Linked DNA regions of Homo sapiens. The protein of the gene in region 1 interacts with the protein of each later gene in a pairwise test. Each region holds a gene or a part of one and is shown in the gene's direction. Other genes may lie near its edges.

What was found. Proteins that work in one complex are often made in the same cells at the same time.
Region 2: the proteins of NAE1 (region 1) and HEXB interact in binary tests that used the Homo sapiens proteins (3 or more experiments, as listed by UniProt).

The regions. Positions count from the first base shown.
Region 1 is NC_000016.10:66,817,273-66,821,019, reverse strand, and holds part of NAE1 (NEDD8-activating enzyme E1 regulatory subunit), read left to right. Parts: intron 1-2,382; coding exon 2,383-2,492; intron 2,493-3,532; coding exon 3,533-3,595; intron 3,596-3,747. UniProt on the Homo sapiens protein: Regulatory subunit of the dimeric UBA3-NAE1 E1 enzyme. E1 activates NEDD8 by first adenylating its C-terminal glycine residue with ATP, thereafter linking this residue to the side chain of the catalytic cysteine, yielding a NEDD8-UBA3 thioester and free AMP.
Region 2 is NC_000005.10:74,683,701-74,687,447, forward strand, and holds the start of HEXB (beta-hexosaminidase subunit beta isoform 1 preproprotein), read left to right. Parts: upstream 1-1,532; 5' UTR 1,533-1,560; coding exon 1,561-1,859; intron 1,860-3,747. UniProt on the Homo sapiens protein: Hydrolyzes the non-reducing end N-acetyl-D-hexosamine and/or sulfated N-acetyl-D-hexosamine of glycoconjugates, such as the oligosaccharide moieties from proteins and neutral glycolipids, or from certain mucopolysaccharides.

The DNA.
Region 1 (3,747 bases):
TTGGCTCACTGCAACCTCCACCTCCCGGGTTCAACTGATTCTCCTGCCTCAGCCTCCCAAGTATCTGGGATTACAGGCACCCGCCACCATGCCCAGCTAATTTTTTTTTTTTTTTTTTTGAGACGGAGTCTCTCTCTTTTGCTCAGGCTGGACTGCAGTGGCGCGATCTTGGCTCACTGCTACCTCCACCTCCCGGGTTCACGCCATTCTCCTGCCTCAGCCTCCCGAGTAGCTGGGACTACAGGCGCCCGCCACCGTGCCCGGCTAATTTTTTGTATTTTTAGTAGAGATGGGGTTTCACCATGTTAGCCAGGATGGTCTCAATCTCCTGACCTCGTGATCTGCCCGCCTTGGCCTCCCAAAGTGCTGGGATTACAGGCGTGAGCCACCGCACCCGGCCGCCCAGCTAATTTTTTGCATTTTTAGTAGAGACAGGATTTCACCATGTTGGCCAGGCTGGTCTCGAACTCCTGACCTCAGGTGATCCACCCGCCTTGGCCTCCCAAGGTGCTGGGATTACAGGTGTGAGCCACTGCACCAGGTCCGTCCAATCTTTTATTTCATTCTCATGCAGGCTTTAGGTTCTCTCAATTCAGGTGCAATTTCACACAACAAAGACATTTACATAACTACTGTTCCCAAGGAAACTGTTGTAAGAGACCAAAGTCGTTTATAGGCAGACCTCCATCAGCTGAGGGTTTATATAAGCCCTTTACTTATAAAATTTTAATCTTAGATGATCATAAAATTTTCATCCAGTATTCAAAACAGTGCTCTTTATTGACTCAAGAAAACATTTTTACTATGAGCCAAGCACTCTGCTAATGTGGTGATAGCCATTGGCATTGGTAGCATCACTGAGGAGTAATATCTGTGTGGGCAGTTAGGGAGTGCTTGTCAGGATAAGCTCTGGCTGCTGGTGGTGAGCCATTTAAGAGTTGAAAGTGGTGTCAACTGATGGGAGGGAACAAAAGAGTTGAAAGTGGGAGAGTGACCATGTAAACATTTTATTTTAAATGGGTCACTTTGAAGTTGAGTGGAAAGTAAATGGATTTAAAGGGGCAAAGATTGGAGGCAGTGATTGCTGTTAGAAATTTCCAGTGGCCTAAGTAAGAGAGAGTGTGTTCTTTTTCCTAATTTAGGGAAGAGAAGAAGAGAGGGTAGATAATAATGAAGGTTCAGCATTACTAGTTGTGTGCCTGCCTTTATAAGAATTATTTCATTTACTCTTTCCAAAACCTTTATAAGGTACAGATTGAGTATCCTTAATCCAAAAATCCAAAATCAGAAATGCTCCAAAATGCAAAACTTTTTGAGAACTGACATAATATTCAAAGGAAACACTCATTGGAACATTTCTTACTTCAGATTTTTGGGTTAGAGAGCTCATCTAATATGTATTTGCAAATATACCAAAAACTCAACAAAATCCAAAACACTTATGGTCCCAAGCATTTTGGATAAGAGAGATATACAATCTGTAGATACTTTAATATCTGCTTTTTATAGATGATGCTGAGGCAATGAGAGATTAAATTATTTGCCTAAGGTCACATAGTTAGCAAGTGACAGAACTGGGCCTACCTCTAAGCACTCACTGAAATTATACACTCTCCTGTCCTCTCTCATGTGGAGAGCAGTGTACAGAGTGAGATTAGGAAGTGGGGAGTTACTGATGTTGGGGCCAAGGAAGCAAGAAGTGAAGGATGCCCATCAGGTTTCTGGAGAAGAAGTCTAGGTAGATGGTGATGCTGTCTATTGAAGACCACAAGAGGAGGAAGGATAGGTTGTTAGTTGCTATCTGTACCTAGGGTTTGTCAATGTTGAGCTTTTCCAGTTAGAACAAATTGTGTTCTAAAGGAATCTTGGTTTTACTTTTACTAAAACTTTATAGTTGACTTAAGATTTCTGCATTTTACTATATGTAAATCGTACCTTAATAAAACAGTGAAAAAACCTGTGGGCCCTGTGTCCATTTAAAAATTAAAGATTTCCTAAGTTTCTATAATTCAATGTATTGTCATCAGTATTGCCAAAGAATTAAGTTTATCTTTTGAGCTGGGCACGGTGGCTCACACCTGTAATGCAAGGACTTTGGGAGGCCGAGGCAGGAGGAGCCCTTGAATCCAGGAGTTTGAGACTAGCCTGGGTGACATAGTGAGACCCTATCCCTACAAAAAAATTAGCTGGGCACAGTGACACGAGACTGTAGTCCCACCTTCTCAGGAGGCTGAGGTGGGAGGATCCCTTCAGCCCAGGAGTTTCAGCAGTGAGCTGTGATTGTGCCACTGTACTTCAGCCTGGGTAATACAGCAAGACCCCATCTCTCTCTTTTTTTTTTTTAAGTGTTAAATTTATCCTTTTGAATTCTTTGTTTCACAGTAATAGAATCTCATCCAGATAATGCATTAGAGGATCTACGACTAGATAAGCCATTTCCTGAACTGAGAGAACATTTTCAGTCCTATGATTTGGATCATATGGAAAAAAAGGTTGGTAGTGTGTGTGACCTTACATTTACAGATAGACTTAAAACATTTTTTTAACCTAAGGTTTTTGAATTACACTAAAGTGAGAAAATCCTATAAACTTCCATATTCCTGTCATCCCGATTACCCAATAACAGTATTTTACCTTGTTTTCAACATATTAATTTTTCTCCAAAATTAAAAAACTTTTTTACTGAAGAAAAGTACATATACTGAACATCTGTGTAATCACTACCCAGGTCAAGAAATTGGACATTAACCTATTCCAGGTGGGGAGATGGGGATGGTTAATGGGTACCAAAAAAAAATTAGAAAGAATAAATAAGATTTACTCCTTGAAAGCACAACAAGGTGACTATAGTTAGTAATAACAACTCAGTTATACATTTTAAAATAATTAAAAGAGTTTAATTGGATTATTTGTAACATAAAGGATAAACGCTTGAGGGGATAAATGCTATACAGATACCCCATTCTCCATGATGTGCTTATTTCACATTGCATGCCTGTATCAAAGCATGTACCCCATAAATATATACACCTAAGTACCCACAAAAATTGAAAGTAAAAAATTTTAAAACAAAAAACAGAAATAAAAAAATTCCAAGAAGTTCTCTTTATGGACTTTTTCTAAACAAATAGAAATAATGACATAACACTATAAGGCGTATATGTATTTTTTCCCACTTCCATATTAATTAACATGCAGTTGCTTATTTGGTTCATCAGAAAACAGAAAAGATCCTCCTTTCTTACTTAGGATTGGTGTCTGAAATTGAGATTTGAGCTGTGTTTTTGGGTGGCAGTCTCTGAGACTGTTTTGCTGGTATAATGGGGACAATCATAGTATATATGTGACATACTAGGTATCTGCCTCTAGAAAAATTTGTAAAGCAGTTTTTATTAACTCAGTTCATTTTCGTCTATTCACTACTCTGCATATATTAGGAGATCATAAATATTGTTGAATTTGTTGAAAACGAGATGGTACAGTGAAGAATTCATAATACTGATATTTTCTTTTATTTGTCTCTCATTTTTAGGACCACAGTCATACTCCATGGATTGTGATCATAGCTAAATATTTAGCACAGTGGTATAGTGAAGTATGTCCTTTTTTAAAAAAAATTTCATATGCAACTGTATTTTCAGTTTCTTACAAAGGATTTCCTTGATGGGGAATGGGAGATTAATTTTTTTTCCTTATGGAGTTGTATGGTAGGGCAAATGGATGCTTTTAAATTTAAATCTAGCAGTT
Region 2 (3,747 bases), on another chromosome or scaffold:
AGAAGGTCAGAAAGATCTTCTGACTCTCTTTTCTTCAGTTCCAAGTATTCAACATGCCAAAGTGCCACACTTTGGGGTCTCATTTTCTGAGGCCCAATAATCATTACATTTCTTTTCTTTCTTTTTTTTTTTTTTTTAAGATGGAGTCTTGTTCTTGTTGCCCAGGCTGGAGTGCAGAGGTGTGATCTCAGCTCACTAAAACTTCCACCTTCCGGTTTCAAGCGATTCTCCTGCCTCAGGCTCCTGAGTAGCTGGGATTACAGGCGCCCGCCACCACGCCCAACTAATTTTTGTATTTTTAATAGAGACGGGGTTTCACTTTGGTGGCCAGGCTGGTCTCGAACTCCTGAACTTGTGATCCGCCCTCCTTCGCCTTCCAAAGTGCTGGGATTTCAGGCGTGAGCCGCCGCACCTGGCCTAATCATTACATTTCTTTGAAGTCTTTCCTTAAAGCTCTTCCACCCTCATTTTCAGAATACTTATATAGCAGATCTGTGGTTTTGGTCTGCCTAGCGTTTTCTCCTTCTGGTAAGAGAACACCTCTTCTCCCTTTGGCATCTCCAGTCCGTGTTCGTCATGTGACTTCACTGGCTCTTCCTTAGGGATGGGTTATGAAATCAAACTTGTCAGTTGGGATCCTTTATATCGGGACCCACACAGATGAGCCAAGATGTTCTCTCTCAGGATTCCTTGGGCATGCTCTGCCCCAGGGAGTTCTGATAGGAAGGCTTTATTGACCACAGCTGAAGTGCTGTTACAGAAAAGCCTAGACTTAGGAGCAAATAAACTCAGCTCTCATCTCGGTTATCTGGTGGTTGGGCTGAGAGGAGAAAGGTGCTCCTCAAGCTTGGCTTCTCCAGCTTCACCGAAGCCAGGGATCCACAGGAGAGCGCCCGTGTTGACAGCGTGAGCGGCGACCCGGTGTCGGCCTGGCGTCCCGAGCCTGTGCACTGGGCCGTTTTCTTTTTCTTTTCTTTTTTTTTTTTTTTTTTTTTGAGACGGAGTCTTGCTCTGTTACCCAGGCTGGAGTGCAGTGGTGCGATCTCGGCTCACTGCAACCTCCGCCTCCCGGGTTCAAGAGATTCTCCTGCCTCAGCCTCCCGAGTAGCTGGGACTACAGGCACCCGCCATCATGCTCGGCTAATTTTTGTATTTTTGTAGAGTCGGGGTTTCACCAATTTGGCCAGGCTGGTCTTGAACTCCTGACCTCAGGTGATCCGCCCGCCTCGGCCTCCCAAAGTGCTGGGGCTACAGGCGTGAGCCACCACGTACGGCCAGCACCGGGCATTTTTCTTACTTTAGCCATCCCGTGTTTGAGGTTGCTGTCTGGGCTCTGCTCCTACCCGAGGGCACCCCTGGAGGAAATTCTCGAGGTGACCTGGACAGGGCGGGCTGGGCGAGGACGCTCCCGGGGCCTGGAGGCGGAGTCGGGGGCGGGCGCGCGCAGTCATCTGACTCGGTGACTCACCCGCGGCCGCGCTTCCTCTGATCCGGGCCGGGCGGGAAGTCGGGTCCCGAGGCTCCGGCTCGGCAGACCGGGCGGAAAGCAGCCGAGCGGCCATGGAGCTGTGCGGGCTGGGGCTGCCCCGGCCGCCCATGCTGCTGGCGCTGCTGTTGGCGACACTGCTGGCGGCGATGTTGGCGCTGCTGACTCAGGTGGCGCTGGTGGTGCAGGTGGCGGAGGCGGCTCGGGCCCCGAGCGTCTCGGCCAAGCCGGGGCCGGCGCTGTGGCCCCTGCCGCTCTTGGTGAAGATGACCCCGAACCTGCTGCATCTCGCCCCGGAGAACTTCTACATCAGCCACAGCCCCAATTCCACGGCGGGCCCCTCCTGCACCCTGCTGGAGGAAGCGTTTCGACGGTGAGCGCTCCCGGCCCGGCCGGGAGTTGTCCTGGGGGAGGGGAGAGGCGGACCACCCCGGAGCGCTGTGCAGACCCTCACCACCCCACTGCGCAGACGAGAAACCGCCTGGGAGCTGGCAGGCGATCTGCCCAGCGCCACATGGACTGAACCCACGCTCTTGCCCCCACCCTCCTACTGCTTCTTAAGGGACACCTTGGGTGCTCAGGAACCCTGGTTTGAGAGCCGGATAGTAAGTGGAAGAGGGAGTTTGCTCTGAGGCCTTGTTGGGCAAATGGCATGGACGGAGGGGACACCGGAGCTGGGGAGGAAAGTGACAGCTCCTTATTTGAAGGACGTGCAAAGGGATAAGTTACCCGAAGGGCTTAGACAAGCTCTCTTGAGGGACCAGGAATCCCCCAAAGCTGACTGTCATTTATAGGCCAGTTTCGCCCCCTCACCTCTCCTCACATCTCCTGGTAACAGCTCAAATGGCAGAAGTCCTCAGTTTCGAGCACTGCCTAAAACTGCCCTCTCTCCTAAAATCTCTTCCATATAAAATGTGACATGTTTGCATCTGACTACGTTTCTGCGGTCAGTGGTTAGGCAGTATCCAACTTTGTTTCTCAACACCGATCATGTTGCCTGCTCTCCCTGCTTCCTCTTTTACAGACCCCTAGATAGCGCCTCTGTCTCTCTCACCCTTTGGCTGCAGACAGGGTGAGTTTTGTCATGGGAGTCAGCCAATCACACCATAGACAAGGCAGGTTCCCCTGGGGAGATGTTTGAAGACGCCACACACTGTCCCCTCAGTGTGAGACCTGTGTAGGTGGGACTGTCCTGAAGGCGTATCGTGCCCTGCAGAATTGTAATTTGGTGCTAACTGTACTGCCTCCTGGCATTCCCCAAGCCTGTCGCTGTACCCAGTGGATACTATAGAGCTTAAGTGTGCTTGCAGGACCCTGAACAGGTGGGGAGGGAATGTCAAACTAACTGAATAATGTGTTCTGACCCCAGATAGGACAGGTGCCTAGGCTCAAGCTGCAGAGGCCCAAGATGCTGATGGCAGAAATGGTTCATTCTCTACAATCAGAAGGCTCATGGTTTCCTTCTGTTTTGTACAACTAAATGGGTATTATCAGTCTCTATTTTAGACACACACACTAATGAGCCTTTGGTATCCAATCTGCTAAGGCCAGAGTGGGGTTAAGATGTAGAACCAAAGTGTTTGGTTGCATTGGGATATTCAGAAAGATTGCATGGAAAGTACATGAAGGTTGTCTCAGAAGATCATGACTAGGGTTGGAAATCTTTTTAAAAACAAACACGCTTATTATGTTTGCCTTGGAGTTCAGCTTGTAGAATTGGATTTTCCTTCTGTGTCATACTGCTAAGTAAAACAAGGACTTGGTAATATGCTGAACTGACTGTGACAAGAAAGCATGGGTGATGTAAGTTAACAATAGGTAGATAACCAGGACTTAAATCAGCTGAGATGGTTCGAAGGCAAGGCTTGGTATTTCAAGGCATGTGCGGGTGATTACCTGAAGAGTTTGCCTAACTCATGGCCTCTGAGTGAAGCAGCCATTAATTATGCCTGGTATTATTAGGAAGCAGGTCATAAAATGTGTTGGCCCTTATGGCTAAGACTTGAAGGCATGCATGTGAGCATTCTAGGAACTCAGAAGGAGCAGCAGGTATCTCAGAGTAAAAGCACAGTGGAGTTGGAAAGATTTGGAAATATGGGAGTGTTCACAAAGTGCGACGTGGTCAGGAACACACAGTCTAGGCCCCAGATTGTTCAGCATCACATAGCCCCTGTCTCTGAAGAGCCCAGGTTGTATCACAAACCTTGCTTTGAAACAGTATGCTTTTTGCAGGCAGAGAGTTTGGCTGTTAGATGCATAGC